Regions from separate parts of the Homo sapiens genome. Here region 1 is reported to be linked to region 2. The links are microRNA targets in miRTarBase. Many come from high-throughput screens and were not tested one by one. Region 2 holds a microRNA gene; the other region holds the end of a gene's coding sequence.

Region 1 (4,062 bases), not on the chromosome of region 2:
ATCGGGTAGGTTTCTAGGCCTTTCTTTCAAGATACTAAACTCTAAACCCTTTCCTAAGTGGGAAGGGCCAGAGGACATGGCATATGAGAATAGGGTTGAGAGCCAGGAATGTAGGAAGATAGAGAAGAACAGTGAGCCAATGCTAAGATCTGACTTGGGGACTGGGTTCACTTAGGCACAGATTTTACACAGCCTTCCCCACCAAACCTTTTCCCCAAATCTAATCCATAGAATGTTTACCTTCCTAATCTATCTCCTGGGTTCCTGCCTTAGCTTTTTGCCAACCGATCCAGTATCATGAGGCATTTTGGACCTGAGGACCAACGTCTGTGGAATGATGTGACAGAGGAACTGATGTCAGATGAAGAGGACAGTCTTAACGAGCCAGGTGTGTGGGTGGCCCGCCCTCCCCGTTTCCGGGCCCAGCGCCTCACAGAGCTCTGCTACCACCTGGATGCTAACTCTAAGCATGGCACCAAAGCCAACCGTGTGTATGGGCCTCCCTCAGACAGACTGCCTTCTGCTGAAGCCCAGCTCCTTCCACCAGAACTTTACAATCCTAATTTCCAAGAAGAGGAAGATGAGGGAGGGGATGAGAATGCACCTGGCTCCCCATCTTTTGACCAACCCCACAAAACCTGCTGTCCTGACTTGAACTCATTCATTGAAATCAAGGTGGAAAAGGATGAATAAAATCTACAGCCAAGAATAACTCTGGCTTCCGCCATGCCCCATGTCTCAGAAATAGGTGGCCATGGGGCTTCACAAAATAATGAGATGCTCTGTGCAGTCTGAGAAAGCAAATTTGCCTCTTTTCTTAACACAGTCTCTACTGGGGAAGCAGAACACTGGTGGGATAAAAACTTATCTAGAAGGGGAGAAACTCCCTCCACTGTGAACAGTAAGCCAGAATATGCTTATTCCTCAGCATAAACAGTATCTCGGAGAAGCCTGGGATGAGAAAATGAGGAGGATGGGTCCAAGAAACATGAGGCCTTCTTGACATATGCCCTGTCTCTGAGTTGTTTCTGCCCCTGCCCAGTTCCACCCAAAGCTCTGAGGAAGCAGCCCAGGTTGTACCTTTTGCTTCCCTGTGACTACTTGTCTTGCTCTGCAGTGGAAACCGAACATGACCAGTGCAGGTTAATACCGCCACCTGGTGGGCAGTTTCAGTCATGAGCTTGAGTCTTCTGACCAAGGGAACACAAGTTCTATCACTATTGGGGAATTGGGTTCCTGATATAATAGCTATTGTTTATTGAATTACATGAGGAAAATTTTACTATTCCTATCTTACAGATGAGGAAATTAAGGCTTAAAGAGTTCCCGTGTCTCACCGGCAGCCTCTCTCTCACTATGTGACCAAGCAAAATACACAGCTTTGTAGCTGTTTCTTGGTCCTGTCAGCCAAGCTGTATTTTGAGGAAGGGGTGTGCATTTTGGATGGATTGAAAAGCAAAAATGGCTTTACATTTATTCAGTCTTATAACAAACATTGATCGCTTTACTAGGTGTCAGGTACTGTGCTATGGATACATTGTTGATAAGGTTGGATGCTGTTCAGAGATTTTTTTAGTTTAGTCAGGAAGCCAGGCAGTGGAGTAGGCAATGAAATGAACTGTGATAAGGGTGACCATGGTGGAGTGTAGTGCACTATGGCAATATACAGCAGGGGTAGCTAACCTACTCTTGCAGTCTGGAAAGGCTTCTTCTGAGAGGGTGTAATGTCTAAACTGGGGAAGAGTTAACCAGAAGGAAAGGGGAGGCTAAGAGAGTGTTCCAAACAGGGAACTGCAGGTACAAAAGTCCAGGGGCAAGAGAGAGTACAGACAAGGTCCAGTTCTACTGCAGACTTTTGGGGAAGGGATAATGCTAGAGGAGAGGCTGGAGAGTGAGACAGACCTCATAATACAGAGTACAGACTTCAACCCAAGGGCAGTGAGAAATCATTGAAAGTTTGTTTTAGCAGGGAAATAAAACGACAGGTTTTGCCTACAGGCAGTCCCCAACTCAACGATGGTTCGACTTAGGATTTTTCAACTTTACGATGGTGCGAAATGATTCAGTATGCTCCTCACCTTATGATGCAGTTATATCAGATAAACCCATTTTAAGCTGAAAATATGGTGAAGTTGAAGAAGCACTTCTGCCTTACGATATTTTCAATTTATAATGGATGGGTTTATTCAGACATAACTCCATTGTAAGTCGTAAAGCTTCTGTACTGAAAAAAATCACTTGACCTCAGGGTATAAGATGGATTGCAGGGAGCAAGCCTTGGCCAGGAGACTTTTGCATTGGTTTCGGAGAGGAAAGACGGTGACTTGACATATATAGTGGTGATGAGGGGAGGACAGATTTGGAAGATGTTTAGGAAGCAGAATTAATAGAACTTGGTGATTGATAGGACTTGGTTGGATTTGAGGTTAAGGGAGAAGGAGGACATAGGGTTGACGCTCAGATTTCTAGTTTAAGCAGCTAACAGGATTGTGCCATTTACTCAGAGAATGTTAGAGGAGCCAGTTTCATGAGGCAGAGAAGATGAGATCAGTTTAGGATATTGGGTGCTTCTGAGACAGCCATTGGAGATGCTAGTAGTTAGTTGAGTTTTTAATTCCAAGAAAGACTGGGCTGGAAATATGGATTAGGGAGTCACCTGCATATACAGATTATAATTAAAGTCTTGGGAACGAAGAGGGCCTTTGGAGATCCCAGCTCCAGTTTAGACTGTGGAGAGGCCACCTGAGGTCATGAGCACTATTGGAGCATGCCCTATTAGCATATGCGTCTTCTACTTCTTCCCCTTCACTCATCTCTGCTTCCAGTTATCCCTTGAAAACACAGGCTGTTCATCCCAGTTGTGCCCATTGCTACCACCAACTCTTGCATGGGCCTCCTTTAATGGCCTCCCAACATTTCATAAGATTTCCTCTCGCATCCTCACCCCAAAGGATCAAAGCTTCCAAATATTAGTAGTTGTGTGGATATTTTGGATGTAATTGGAAGGAAGAATCAAAGTTCTCCTTCCTCATCTGGACACAGGAAAGGAGGGAACACATTATGGTTAATTCTGAAGATGTTGCTCACAGCAGGTTCTAGATGCAATCCGATAGCTCCCCTCTGTTCCTAGTGCTTTCAGTCCTCCCTGCTTCCACTCTGGTAGGAAACTCTCCTCAGGATCAGAGAAAAGCCGTGGCCTTGACCAGGGAAACAGAGGCTGATTCTCAGGGGAGATGAGGTCAGGGAGACAATGCAACTAGGACGAAGAAGCCAAATAGTTTGGCACAAATTAATTTCCCAAAAGATATTAACCTCGTTTCTTTCCACATTCCCTAAGGCTACACTAAGATTATAAAAGGTGTTCAAAATGTTGAGATGAAAATAATATGCATGACTTGTTTGCATATAATTTTCATACTCATTTACTATCTAAATACAAAGGAGTCATTTTCCTTCTCCATTCTACTTCCTCCACCCCTTGCCCCTGATGTTTTAGTCTGGGCAAAAGTAGTTGGCTGGTTTTTAAAAAATTTTTTTGAGACGGAATCTCCCTCTATCGCCCAGGCCTGAGTGCAATGGCACAATCTCGGCTCTCTGCAACCTCCGCCTCCTGGGTTCACGCGATTCTTCTGCCTCAGCCTCCCAAGTAGCTGGGACTACAGGTGCACGCCACCACACCGGCTAATTTTTGTATTCTTAGTAGAGACGGGGTTTCACCATACTGGCCAGGCTGGTTGCAAACTCCTGACCTCGTGATCCCGCCGCCTCTGCCTTCCAAAGTGCTGGGATTACAGGCGTGAGCCACCGCTCCCGGCCGTTGGCTGGTATTTAATTAGGTATGTTTAGCTTCATCTAGGGTTTCTTTAAAAAAAATTATTATTTATTTTTGAGAATTTTTTTGAGACGGAGTCTTGCTCTGTCGCCCAGGCTGGAGTGCAGTGGCCGTGATATTGGCTCACTGCAACCTCTGTCTCCCGGGTTCAAGCGATTCTCCCGCCTCAGCCTCTCGAGTGGCTGGGACTATAGGCGTGCGCCACCACGCCTGGCTAATTTTTGTATTTT
Region 2 (4,067 bases):
CTTCAGCGGAGGGTCAAGGTCCTTCTGAGCTGGGAGGCTGAAATGGAACACATGTGGCTCTGAGCCAGTGAAGTGCTTTCTTGGGACTGCCCTGCTGTCCAGGAACTGAAGCTGGGTTCAAATGCTGACTGTCATTCTCTGGGCATGTGACCATGGCCAAGCTAATACACATGATGAGCCTCAGTTTCTGCATCTTTGAAAGGGTGATCATTGTGAGTATTTTGCAGAGGATTAAATGAGATAAGACTGGTGAACCACCCCCACCACCCCCCTCAACCCCCCGGATTTTTTGGCCTCATAGCTTTGCTTCTATGCATGAAGTGCTGAATGCCATTTCTGGTACTGACTCAGATTCTTCATGTGCCAGTCTGGGTACTGACTTGTGGAGTGGATAGTGGTTGAGGGAAGACAACTGGGGGTGGGAGGAATGGGAGAATGTGAGTGTCGAGGGGTGGGCTACCTCTTGGGCACTGGCAATTACATGACAGTGGAACAGCATTGCAATTTAGTTTTGTGTTTTTCATTGTAACCCAACTGGCAACAGAACAGTGATGGGAGATGGAAAGGGTATCAAATTTGACTAGTGAGTTGCCCCTTTTGGTCCCTTCCTTAGAGTAAGCCTCAGTTTCTTCATCTGCAAAATGGAACTATCAGTGCCTTCTCTGACTACCTCGCAGAGTTGCTGTGAAGAAAAAGTGAGATAAAAATGTACCTGAAAGCATTTGTAAAATGTAAAGTGCTGTATAAATGTAACTGATTATTGTTTCATTTAAAAGACATGGTTTTGTTGATATCTCATGAAAAACAGTGCTAGTCCTCCCATTTAGTCATGGCGACAACCTTTTTGTCATAAATGTGCATGGGAGAATCGTTGGTTAGTAGGTGTTTTCCTTTATCCAAGTGGTCTGAGCTGGAAAATATGGAGAATTCCTTCACTAAAGGGCCATATCTTTTGACTCTATTGACAGCATGTCATGTGGAACTCAAAACTGCCTTCGTGAATGCAGATAGATTGCATCTATTAGCTGCCTCTTGTCATCATGACCTGCCAGAAGGGAAAATAAAATGTGCCTACAAATATTTCAATATTTATGTTGTGTGAAGGTTTAATATTCATTTGGAGCAGTGAATGGGGAAAGAGAAAAAAAAGTCCACATCCTTTACTTTGGAAATTGCTCAGTTCAACAAGAATTTATTGAGTACCTACTATGAGCTAGTGAGTGAATGATATGCTAGTGTCTACCAAAGAAAGACACCAAATTCTAATATTGACAACTTCATGTTTGCATACTTTGTCAGAAGCCTTGGAGAATCCCAAGGTCAGGAGTCTTTGCTCATTCCTATGGGGGAACTGATGAAATCTGCCCAGAGGTTGGGGAAGAGGGAAGTAGGTGAAATGGCTGCAGAGGAGAGGTGTTTGTAGTAAAATTGGGGAAGAGAGGAGAGTGGGAGGGGGTGGATCAGACCTCAGAAACACACTCCTACCTGTTAGGATGTAGGTGTGTGCTTGCACTTGTGGGTGGGACCAAGAGACAGGTGTCAGTAGCCTGGAGTTATAAAAACCAAAATGCATTGAATAATTGGATGGGAAACCACACATAAGAAAAGGACTCTTAGCAAGTGTATTTTTTCCAGCAATGCAAAAGTGAATTTACAAGCATATTGTTGTAGCTGTGAAGGGGCAAGCTCTACTAAAGGGATAGATGGTACATGAAAATAAGTTGTAAAATGTTGTTAATTGAAGAATATGTTGATAATTTGTGTCACTGATATTCAGTGTTTTGAATATGTTGTCATTGTCATTTCTCATTATGTAAAAATATAATAATTTTACAAGTTCACTGGTGACTTCATTCCCCTAACCCTATTTTTTCCCCAATAAGGTCCTAAATTCCTGAAGCCTGACTTCTCCTGCCCCAGGGGTTTTCAGAAACCTAACCCCCATGGTTGGCGAGGGACTGCTGTGTGTGAAATGGTAACTGCCCTCAAGGAGCTTACAATCTAGCTGGGGGTAAATGACTTGCACATGAACACAACTAGACTGTGAGCTTCTAGAGGGCAGGGACCTTACCCTAGTCATCTCTCTTCTCACCCTGCACACCCTCCCTGAGGGATCTCATCCATCCCCATGGCGTCAACCACCACCTGAGGACCCTCTAGGCCTGAATTGTCTCCTGAGTGCCACACCCAGCTCTCCAGCATCTTCAGTGTTCCTCCCCGGGTGGAATGCTCCACAGCACTGCCAACTCAACCTGCTCACCAAAACCCAGCTTGTCATATCTCCTCTGGGCCAGCCCTGGCTTCCAGGCTCCTGGACTTGGTCCCCCAGATCAAAGATCCAGGGGTCACTCATTTGGACTGAGCTTGATGGAAAAGTGCTTATGTTTCAATGTTAAGTAAACTGGGGAGCCTATCAAATGTATAGACATGATGAACTCATTGATGTTAAGTACATAGATGGAAAGAGAAATGCTTCAGAATGTATTAGTGGTTGCCTCTAATGGTAAAATAATGATTGACGTTTTCTTTTTCTGACACCCTTGTGCTTTCCAAATCTCCTGCAAAAAGTATTTATTACTTTTGTAACCAGCAAAAATGCCTAATAAAAATGATTGACAGGTCTCCATTTGAGTGTCACCTTTTCTGGGAATTATTGTTTATTCCTTTGCATCTCAAAGAGTCTGAGGCTCCGGGGTTAGACAGCCTCAGCACGTGTGCTTACCCTGTTGGGGAACTTGTTGCACTGTGTTCTTTCTGTAAATCGGCTCTTCCATTAGTCTGTGAGCTCCGAGAGGGCAGGAATCATGGTTATTCATCTCTCATTTCCAGTGCCTAGCACAAGGCTTGCATACATAACTGCTCAATACATGCTTGTTCTTTAAAGGAAGAGAGGGAGGGAAGGAGGCAGGAAAACAAAAAGGTGAAGGACACCAGAATTCTCAAATGTTATACCTCCATGGATCCCTTGTATTATTTCCTGTCCCCAAGATCCTTTGTTTATTAAGCTTTTGAATCTACTGTACCACTGATTTTTCACTCGGTAGTTTGAATTTTTCTGTTTTTTAGTAATCATAGGCCTTATAAATCCCAATCAGAGCTTCTCAGGGCCAAGTCTGGCATATGCCACCTGCTGTCCCAAGTCTGACTTGGGCAGAGTGCCCCCTGCCTGACACCTAGGTCATGGCATGCAGGGCTATCTCCAGTTCTCTGGAGCTGAGTGTACCTTCTGGAGCTTCTTTTAAAGTGGAACGATGGCAAACTGCAATGTCTGTGGGAGGAGGAGAGCAAGGGAACAGATAACATAAGAATAGAAGTGACAATTGCAAACTTCAATTGTGTGTTTCCTCTGTGCAGGCACTGTGCTATGCATCAACACGCACTGTCCCCTCAGCCCTCACAGCAGCTCTGTGACACAGGCACTATTACAATTGCCATTTTGTAAGCAAGGAAACTGAGGCTTAAAGATGCATTAGATGGGGAAACTGGAATTTGCACTGATTGCAGAGCTTAAGTCCAGCACTGCATCCCTCTTCTGAAGTTCCAGGAAGAGCACAGGGAGGAGAGGGCAAGAGAGATGCCTGTCAGGAGAAAGGAGCAGTGTTTGCAATTTCAGAGCCTTGTTTGGGGATGTGCCAGCATAGAGGAGTTTAGCCCCGAAGGCACAAAGCCCTTCACAAAGTCTGTGACACTCCTGAAGTTGTAGGCAATTTGTTCCAGGTATGTGCATTGTCTGGGAAGGTCTTCAAAGGAGTCTGTGTGGTTAAAAAAAAAAAAAATGGTTAAGGAAGCGGACCATGGAGCAGAAAGTTGCAGTGACTGGATTCTGGCTCCAGGCTGCAAATTTAACCATTGAATATCACCCAACAGGATGGATATGGGGATATGGTCTTGTTGATAAAGCATCTCCCTCACACAAGACTTGGAGAAATAATCCTGGAGGGTGTGTGTGTGTGTGTGTGTGTGTGTGTGTGTGTGTGTGTGTGTGTGGTGTGTGTTTATGTGTCTCCCAGGTATTTAGAATCAACTGATTACCAAATCAATCAACAAATATTTATTCTAGCAGAGAC

Evidence for each region. Region 2 holds the annotated microRNA hsa-miR-708-5p (AAGGAGCUUACAAUCUAGCUGGG, at 1,988-2,010, shown strand). A microRNA usually pairs through its seed, bases 2 to 8, with sites in the 3' UTR of a target mRNA and lowers its output. Matches are read on the target gene's strand: a 7mer-m8 pairs with bases 2 to 8, a 7mer-A1 pairs with bases 2 to 7 and ends in A, and an 8mer does both.
Region 1: the mRNA of C14orf93 is a reported target of hsa-miR-708-5p. The part of its 3' UTR that is shown has no 7-base or 8-base seed match.

Annotation. Positions count from the first base shown.
Region 1 is chr14:22,983,846-22,987,907 of GRCh38, reverse strand. It overlaps C14orf93 (chromosome 14 open reading frame 93), which reads left to right. Exons shown (of 7, transcript NM_021944.4): 6 at 1-5; 7 at 274-2,014. The coding sequence ends at 693. It overlaps AJUBA-DT (AJUBA divergent transcript), which reads right to left and starts at 3,584. Exons shown (of 3, transcript XR_007064074.1): 1 at 3,088-3,584. RefSeq lists a silencer at 1,068-1,177.
Region 2 is chr11:79,400,020-79,404,086 of GRCh38, reverse strand. MIR708 (microRNA 708) reads left to right here and starts at 1,978; the gene lies at 1,978-2,065. The region is part of intron 1 of TENM4 (teneurin transmembrane protein 4); the gene reads left to right.